Homo sapiens: one gene and its partner. The protein of the gene in region 1 interacts with the protein of each later gene in a pairwise test. Each region holds a gene or a part of one and is shown on either strand. Other genes may lie near its edges.

Region 1 (4,378 bases):
CATCTCAAAAAAAAAAAAAAAAAAAAAGAACATCTGGAGCCATAATTCCCGATGTTCTTGTTACTTGACACTGCCTAAAGGCATGTTCTGTGGGTTCCGGGGAAACTGATTTGAAAAACTTGAGTGTTGTAAAGGAGGGCCATAAGCTGAGTGAACACAGCAGTTGTGAGAGGTCCCAGGTGCTTCCTGGGGACAGGGAGACACGACAGACCAAGAAGCAAAGGGGCCTCTGATGTGACTTCAATATCAAGGTCTTGTCGGGCACAGTGGCTCATGCCTGTAATCGCAGCACTTTAAGAGGCCGAGGCGGGTGGATCACTTGAGGTCAGAAGTTCAAGACCATCCTGGCCAACATACTGAAACCCTGTCTCTACTAAAAAGTACAAAAAATTAGCTGGGCATGGTGGCTCAAGCCTGTAATCCCAGCTACTTGGGAGGCTGAGGCAGGAGAATCTCTTGAACGTGGAAGGTAGAGGTTGCAATGAGCCAAGATTGCGCCACTGCACTCCAGCCTGGCGACAGAGTGAGGCCCCATCTCAAAAAACAAAATCAATGTCTCGATGCAGACTGCCAGGTATCAGGTGTCCATCCATGTCTCCAAAAAGCCACTTGGCACCAGGAGCAGACAGGAAGGGCAAAGAGGAGCCAGACTGAAGCAGGGCTTCTTAGCTCCCAAGCCACACAGGTGGCCACCAGTCAGAGAGGCAGTGTGTGTGTGTGTGTGTGTGTGTGTGTGTGTGTGTGTGTGTGTGTGTATTTCTTCAGTTCAGTGTGTGTATGTATGTTTCTTCTGCAGCTCAGTGTATGTGTGTATTCCTTCAGCTCAGTATGTGTGTGTGTGTATGTTTCTTCTGCAGCTGTGTGTGTGTGTGTGTGTGTGTTTCTTCTGCAGCTCAGGATGCCTCCAACATTTCTGCTGAAGCCTCACCCTCACTCCTGGCCCATCCTGAGGCCTCTACCTAAGATGCCAATGAGTAGCCCAGACACTGGGGCTCCAGTGTTTGTCACCAGGTGGTACCTGGATGTGGGAGGTAGACAGGCCAGATGGCCAGTTTGGGCAGTGCCCCCATGCCTATCTGGCCCTGGGTCCCTATGCCACCTTGCTGGGGAGGGTCTTTTCGCTTACACCTCCTCTGAGCCGACTCTGCGCAGTAACACAAATGTGTATCAGGCACATCCTTTCCTCAAAAGGTGGATGACCAGTTGGGTGATCAGGGCTGTTAGGGGGCTGAAGGGTCCTGGGGAGTCCAGGTCTAGCCAAGTTGAGGCCTATCCTGCTGCATTTTCCAGCCACCTGACCCAAATACACCACCTGAACCCACGACCAGGTATGCCCACACCCCATGGGTGGCCTTAACACACACACCCTGCCCCTTTCTCCAAGTACAGGAGCAGCAGCCCAGACTTCCCTCGGGGCACCGCGGCCTGCTTGGGACTGCACAGTGCCTGGGAGGGTGCCTGGGGAGGGTCACAAGGGACTTGGTGCTAGAAGCAGGAAAAGTGTAGGGACCGGAAAAGCCCCCGTGCATCCTGGAAGGGACATGGGCCAGTTTGAGCAGGGGTGTGGGAGTCCAGCCCTGGCCTTGCCAGGTGGAGAGGCGCCTGGGCCAGACATCCGCGGCAGGAGGCGGGGGAACATGCCAAGAGGCGGAAGGGGCACGCGGAGACCCCCAGGGGGCGCCGGAAGGGGCGCGCCGGGCGGTCGGCGGCGGCCGTTGGCGAGCTGAGGCCTGCCAGGCGAAGTCTGGAGACCAGCCGGGCCGCGGCCGCAATGGCCAAGGACTCGCCCAGCCCCTTGGGCGCGTCGCCCAAGAAGCCGGGCTGCTCCAGCCCGGCGGCGGCAGTGCTGGAGAACCAGAGGCGGGAGCTGGAGAAGCTACGGGCGGAGCTGGAGGCGGAGCGGGCAGGCTGGCGGGCGGAACGGCGGCGCTTCGCTGCCCGGGAGCGCCAGCTGCGTGAGGAGGCCGAGCGGGAGCGGCGGCAGCTGGCTGACCGTCTGCGCTCCAAGTGGGAGGCACAGCGCAGCCGGGAGTTGCGGCAGCTGCAAGAGGAGATGCAGCGGGAACGCGAGGCCGAGATCCGGCAGCTGCTGCGCTGGAAGGAGGCCGAGCAGCGGCAGCTGCAGCAGCTGCTGCACCGGGAGCGCGATGGCGTGGTGCGCCAAGCCCGGGAGCTGCAGCGCCAGCTGGCCGAGGAGCTGGTGAACCGCGGCCACTGTAGCCGCCCGGGGGCGTCCGAGGTTTCCGCGGCGCAGTGCCGCTGTCGCCTGCAGGAAGTGTTGGCGCAGCTTCGCTGGCAGACTGACGGCGAGCAGGCGGCGCGCATCCGCTATCTGCAGGCGGCGCTGGAGGTGGAGCGCCAGCTCTTCCTCAAGTACATCCTGGCGCACTTCCGCGGGCACCCGGCTTTGTCGGGATCACCGGACCCCCAAGCTGTGCATTCCTTGGAAGAACCGCTGCCCCAGACCTCCAGCGGCTCTTGCCACGCCCCCAAACCCGCCTGCCAACTCGGATCTCTAGACAGCCTGAGTGCTGAAGTCGGTGTGCGCTCCCGCTCGCTAGGCCTGGTGTCCTCTGCGTGCTCCAGCTCCCCAGACGGCCTGCTCTCCACGCACGCCAGCTCCCTTGATTGCTTCGCACCTGCGTGTTCCCGCTCGCTTGACAGCACCCGGAGCCTCCCCAAGGCCTCCAAATCCGAGGAGCGGCCCTCCTCACCAGACACCTCCACCCCTGGCTCCCGGAGGCTCTCGCCGCCACCATCGCCACTCCCGCCGCCACCACCACCGTCAGCCCACAGGAAACTCAGCAACCCGCGGGGAGGAGAAGGCTCTGAGAGCCAGCCCTGCGAAGTCCTGACTCCCTCACCCCCGGGCCTGGGCCACCACGAGCTGATAAAGCTGAACTGGCTGCTGGCCAAGGCGTTGTGGGTGCTGGCGCGCCGCTGTTATACCCTGCAAGAGGAGAACAAGCAGCTGCGGCGTGCAGGCTGCCCCTACCAGGCAGACGAGAAGGTGAAGCGGCTCAAGGTAAAGCGCGCGGAGCTGACCGGGCTCGCGCGGCGCCTAGCTGACCGCGCCCGCGAGCTGCAGGAGACCAACCTCCGGGCCGTGAGCGCGCCTATACCCGGCGAGAGTTGCGCCGGCCTGGAGCTGTGCCAAGTCTTTGCCCGCCAGCGCGCTCGGGACCTGTCGGAGCAGGCGAGCGCGCCGCTGGCCAAGGACAAGCAGATCGAAGAGCTGCGGCAGGAGTGCCACCTCCTGCAGGCGCGTGTCGCCTCGGGTCCCTGCAGCGACCTGCATACTGGAAGGGGCGGCCCCTGCACCCAGTGGCTCAACGTCAGAGACTTAGACCGCCTGCAGCGCGAGTCCCAGCGGGAAGTGCTGCGCCTGCAGAGGCAGTTGATGCTTCAGCAGGGCAACGGTGGCGCTTGGCCCGAGGCGGGCGGCCAGAGCGCAACCTGCGAGGAGGTGCGACGGCAGATGCTGGCGCTGGAGCGCGAGCTGGACCAGCGGCGGCGCGAGTGCCAGGAGCTGGGCACGCAGGCGGCCCCGGCGCGGCGACGTGGCGAGGAGGCCGAGACACAGCTGCAGGCGGCGCTGCTCAAAAACGCCTGGCTGGCGGAGGAGAATGGGCGGCTGCAGGCCAAGACCGACTGGGTGCGGAAGGTGGAGGCTGAGAATAGCGAAGTGCGCGGCCACCTGGGCCGCGCGTGTCAAGAGCGCGATGCCTCCGGCTTGATCGCCGAACAGCTGCTGCAGCAGGCGGCGCGCGGGCAGGACAGGCAGCAGCAGCTGCAACGCGACCCGCAGAAGGCCCTGTGTGACCTCCATCCTTCCTGGAAGGAGATACAGGCGCTCCAGTGTCGGCCTGGTCACCCTCCTGAACAGCCCTGGGAGACCAGTCAAATGCCGGAGTCCCAAGTTAAAGGTAGCAGAAGGCCCAAGTTCCACGCACGGCCTGAAGACTACGCAGTGTCACAGCCCAACAGAGACATACAGGAGAAAAGGGAAGCCTCCCTCGAGGAGAGCCCAGTTGCCCTTGGGGAGTCAGCCAGTGTCCCCCAAGTTTCAGAGACAGTCCCTGCCAGCCAACCTCTGTCCAAGAAAACCAGCTCCCAGTCAAACTCCTCCTCTGAGGGGTCGATGTGGGCCACCGTGCCGTCCTCCCCTACTCTGGACAGGGACACAGCCAGTGAGGTGGATGACCTGGAGCCTGACAGCGTGTCCCTGGCCCTGGAAATGGGGGGCTCGGCGGCTCCTGCTGCCCCCAAGCTCAAGATCTTCATGGCTCAGTATAACTACAACCCATTTGAGGGGCCCAATGATCACCCTGAGGGTGAGCTGCCCCTCACAGCTGGGGACTACATATATATCTTCGGG
Region 2 (3,809 bases), on another chromosome or scaffold:
GACGCAAGTGTGGCTCATTCTTCTTATTCCAACAAAATGTCTTTGCCAGTAGCAGGCTAGCTCTTCTGCCTACTCACGCCCCAGTGGCGACAGCAGCCATCAGTGTCTGTCTACCCTAGAAGGGCTCATCTCTCTCTGGAGTTATACTTATTTATATTTGTGTACAGACCTTTTCAACTGTATTAGTCCATTTTCATGCTGCTGATAAAGATATACCCCAGACTGGGAAGAAAAAGAGGTTTAATTGGACGTACAGTTCCACATGGCTGGGGAGGCCTCAGAATCATGGCGGTGGGCGAAAGGCACTTCTTACATGGCAGCAGCAAGAGAAAATGATGAAGAAGCAAAATCAGAAACCCCTGATAAACCCATCAGATCTTGTGAGACTTAATCACTATCACGAGAATAGCACAGGAAAGACCGGCCCCTGTGATTCCATTACCTCCACCTGAGTTGCTCCCACAACATGTGGGAATTCTGGGAGATACAATTGAAGTTGAGATTTGGGCGGGGACACAGCCAAACCATATCATCAACTTTAAGGACAGGTATGATTTTTATGAGTGTATTTTGTTATTGTTATAGTGAAGCACACTGATTTTGTGTGTGTGCCCATCTGCATCTTGAACCTTTCTATGTATATATGCATATATTTTTGGTTTTACCTTATGAGGACTTTTAAAAACTTCTACTTGAATAATTATCTGTTTTATTTTAGCATCAATTTCCTTGTAGACTAATTTGAAATAAAGCTGTATCTAATTTACAATAAAACCTGGCTAGGGCTGTAACTTTTTCTCATTCTCTTTTTAATATATTGTCAGTTATTTAATCAGCAAACATTTAAAGAACACCAACATCGTGTAGAATGGTGTGCTCAACACCATGGTGTGACAAATAAAGATGAAAAACACAGTTGCCACCAGAATTAAGTGGCTTAAATTCAATTTTAAGTGTACTTACAACAATCTTTTTTTATGAGACACATAGAAATAGACTCTTGATCTCTTGCACTAAATGTCATTTTTTTTCTCCTTTCTGCCTTCAAATTTGAAAGCCAATATATGCATACCTGCACTAATATATAATTTTTATAGTTGTCTTTGTGTAACAAACTTAAGAACTTCTAACGGGGCAATTAGGATTTGTACATTCATATTTAGTATATGTTCATAAAATACTTTGTGAAGTATAGATTATAGATCATACTATTACCTAAGTATTCACTTATAATTAGTATCTATTCTTGTTAGTTTCCTGTTGCTTAGGTAACCAGTTACCACAAATCTAGTAGCTTAAAACAACATGTATTTATTATTTTACAGTTCTAGAGGTCAGAAAACCAAAATCCACCCAACTGGGCTAAAGTTAAGGTGTCAGCAGGGCTGACTCCTTCTGTAGGCTCTTGGGGGAATCCACCTTCTTGACTTTTCTGGCTTTTTTTTTTTTTTAATTATACTTTAAGTTCTAGGGTACATGTGCACAACGTGCAGGTTTGTTACATATGTATACATGTGCCATGTTGGTTTGCTGCACCCATTAACTCGTCATTTACATTAGGTATTTCTCCTAATGTTATCCCTCCCTCTTCCCCCCACTCCACGACAGACCCTGGTGTGTGATGTTCCCTGCCCTGTGTCCAGGTGTTCTCATGGTTCAGTTCCCACCTATGAGTGAGAACATGCGGTATTTGGTTTTCTGTCCTTGTGAACTGTCACCTTTTCCGGCTTTTAAAGGCCATCCTCAGTCCTTGGATCACAGCCATGCATCATGTTGCCTTTTCTCTCTCCTTCATCTTTTGTCACATTGCCTTCTCTTTGACCTTTGCTTCTTTCTTATAAGGATCCTTATGATTGTATCAAGCCTTGCTGGGTAATTCAGGATAATCTTCCCATCTCAAAATACTTCTCTTAAAGTAATCCTTTAATACTTTAATACAAATTAATTCTCTAATACAAAAGGAAATGTAAATTTCCTGTTGAATATAAGGTAATGTATTTCTAGGTTACAGGGATTAGGACGTAGATATCTTTGGGTAGGGTTGGGGGCATTTTTCAGTCTACCAGAGTCTTCCCTTTGACCCCTAAAGATTCACATCTGTCTTTTGTAAAATACATTCAGCCTATCCCAAGGTCCCACAAACTCTGAACCCATTGCAAAATCAACTCAAAATCCAAAATGTCATCTAAATATCATCAGCCCCTAAGTCCCATTTCATCATTTAATTATCTAAAGCTGGTTTATGTGACACTCTGGGTATGATTCATCCTGGGGCAAAATTCCTCCCCACTTTTGCACCTGAAGCGAGGTACCTACTCCCAAAATACAATGAGTAGGATAGGCATTGGAGAATAGTTGTAGACATTTCCATTCAAAAAGGGAGAAAATGAAAGGAGAAGAAAAAGAATCACTGGTTCCAAGCTATTTCAAAATTCAGCCATTAGGTTTCAAGGCCTGGGGATAATTCTCTGTGGCCCTTGGCTTCACCCATTTGACCTGTATTTCTACCCTCTAAAATATCCTTCTTTTTTAAAGTTCTTTTATTTATTTATGAGGCCAGGTCTTGCTCTTTCATCAGGCTGGAGCCCAGTGGTGCCATCACGGCTCACTGCAACCTCCACCTCCCAGGCTTACATCTCAGCCTCCCGAGTAGCTGGTACTACAAGCACATGGTACCACGCCCAGCCAATTTTTTGTGTTTTTAGTAGAGAAGGTGTCTTGCCATGTTGCCCAGGCTGTTCTTCAACTCCTGGGCTCAAGCAGTCTGCCTGCCTTGGCCTCCCACAGTGTCAGGGTTACAGGCATGATGAGCCACTGTGCCTTACCTCCTTTTTTGTTAAGGGTGGCATGTATATGCAGGTGAGTTGTTTTATTACCCTGGCTTTTGCCTGAAGAATTTGGGGAGTCAAATAGCCTTCTTTCTTTCCTTCTCTTTTTGTTCTTTTGTCCCTCTCAATTCCAGCTGACAGTGTTCCTGATGGTAAATCATTCTCAAAAACCTTGTGGCTCTCCCATTTATATCATAGGGATTCATTCCATTACACAAGAGGCTCCTCTGCAGATCTTTCTTGAATAATTCATTGCTATTTCTGGCTTCTGCTGAGACGCCTGAGGGGATCCTTGACTCATATGCTTAATTTCTTCAAAGAGCCCTCTGTTTGACTAAATACCCTGATCCTTCAAAACTTCTGAGGCATTAACAAAGGGTTGTATAGCTGCACTCATGGCTTTCTCTCCAAAGCACTTTTCTTTCAGCAAAACCCCTAACTTTTTGTCTTTTTCAGTATAGATAGGCTAAGAATTTCCCAAATTATCTAATCTTGCTCCTCTTTGCATAGCAGTTCTCTTAATTTGTCTGTTTTCTCCTGCAAGAATAAAGCAGGCTGCATTTTCACTGTTTGCTTGGAAATTTCCTCAGCTAAATATCCAAGTTCATTGTTTACAAGTTTTGCTTTCCACTTCCAATTCATCTAATTCTGCCGCTATGAATGAACAAGGATCCCCTTTCCTCCACCTTCCACTAACATGTTCCTCATTTCCTTGCGAGCCCTCACCAGCAGGGCTTTTGACATCTGTATTGCTACCACCAGTATGTTTATGAATATTTGGATATTCTCAGACAGTATAGGTTTTCTCTACCATGCTCCTCACTTTTTCCTTGCCTGTCACAGTCTATAACATCCATATTTCTACAAGAGTCTCTTTAAGGCAAAATAGCCATTTAATATCATGGTGCTCCAAGTTATCTACTACCCACTGACCAATTCCAAGGCTAATTCCACATTTTTATGTATTTGTTACAAGCAATA

The links.
Region 2: the proteins of RIMBP3C (region 1) and FARS2 interact in a two-hybrid assay, tested with the Homo sapiens proteins (one large-scale study listed by BioGRID).

The regions. Positions count from the first base shown.
Region 1 is NC_000022.11:21,548,370-21,552,747, reverse strand, and holds the start of RIMBP3C (RIMS-binding protein 3C), read left to right. Parts: upstream 1-1,286; 5' UTR 1,287-1,771; coding exon 1,772-4,378. Other genes in the region: UBE2L3 (ubiquitin-conjugating enzyme E2 L3), read right to left, coding at 3,098-3,298.
Region 2 is NC_000006.12:5,547,743-5,551,551, forward strand, and holds part of FARS2 (phenylalanine--tRNA ligase, mitochondrial), read left to right. Parts: intron 1-3,809. UniProt on the Homo sapiens protein: Is responsible for the charging of tRNA(Phe) with phenylalanine in mitochondrial translation.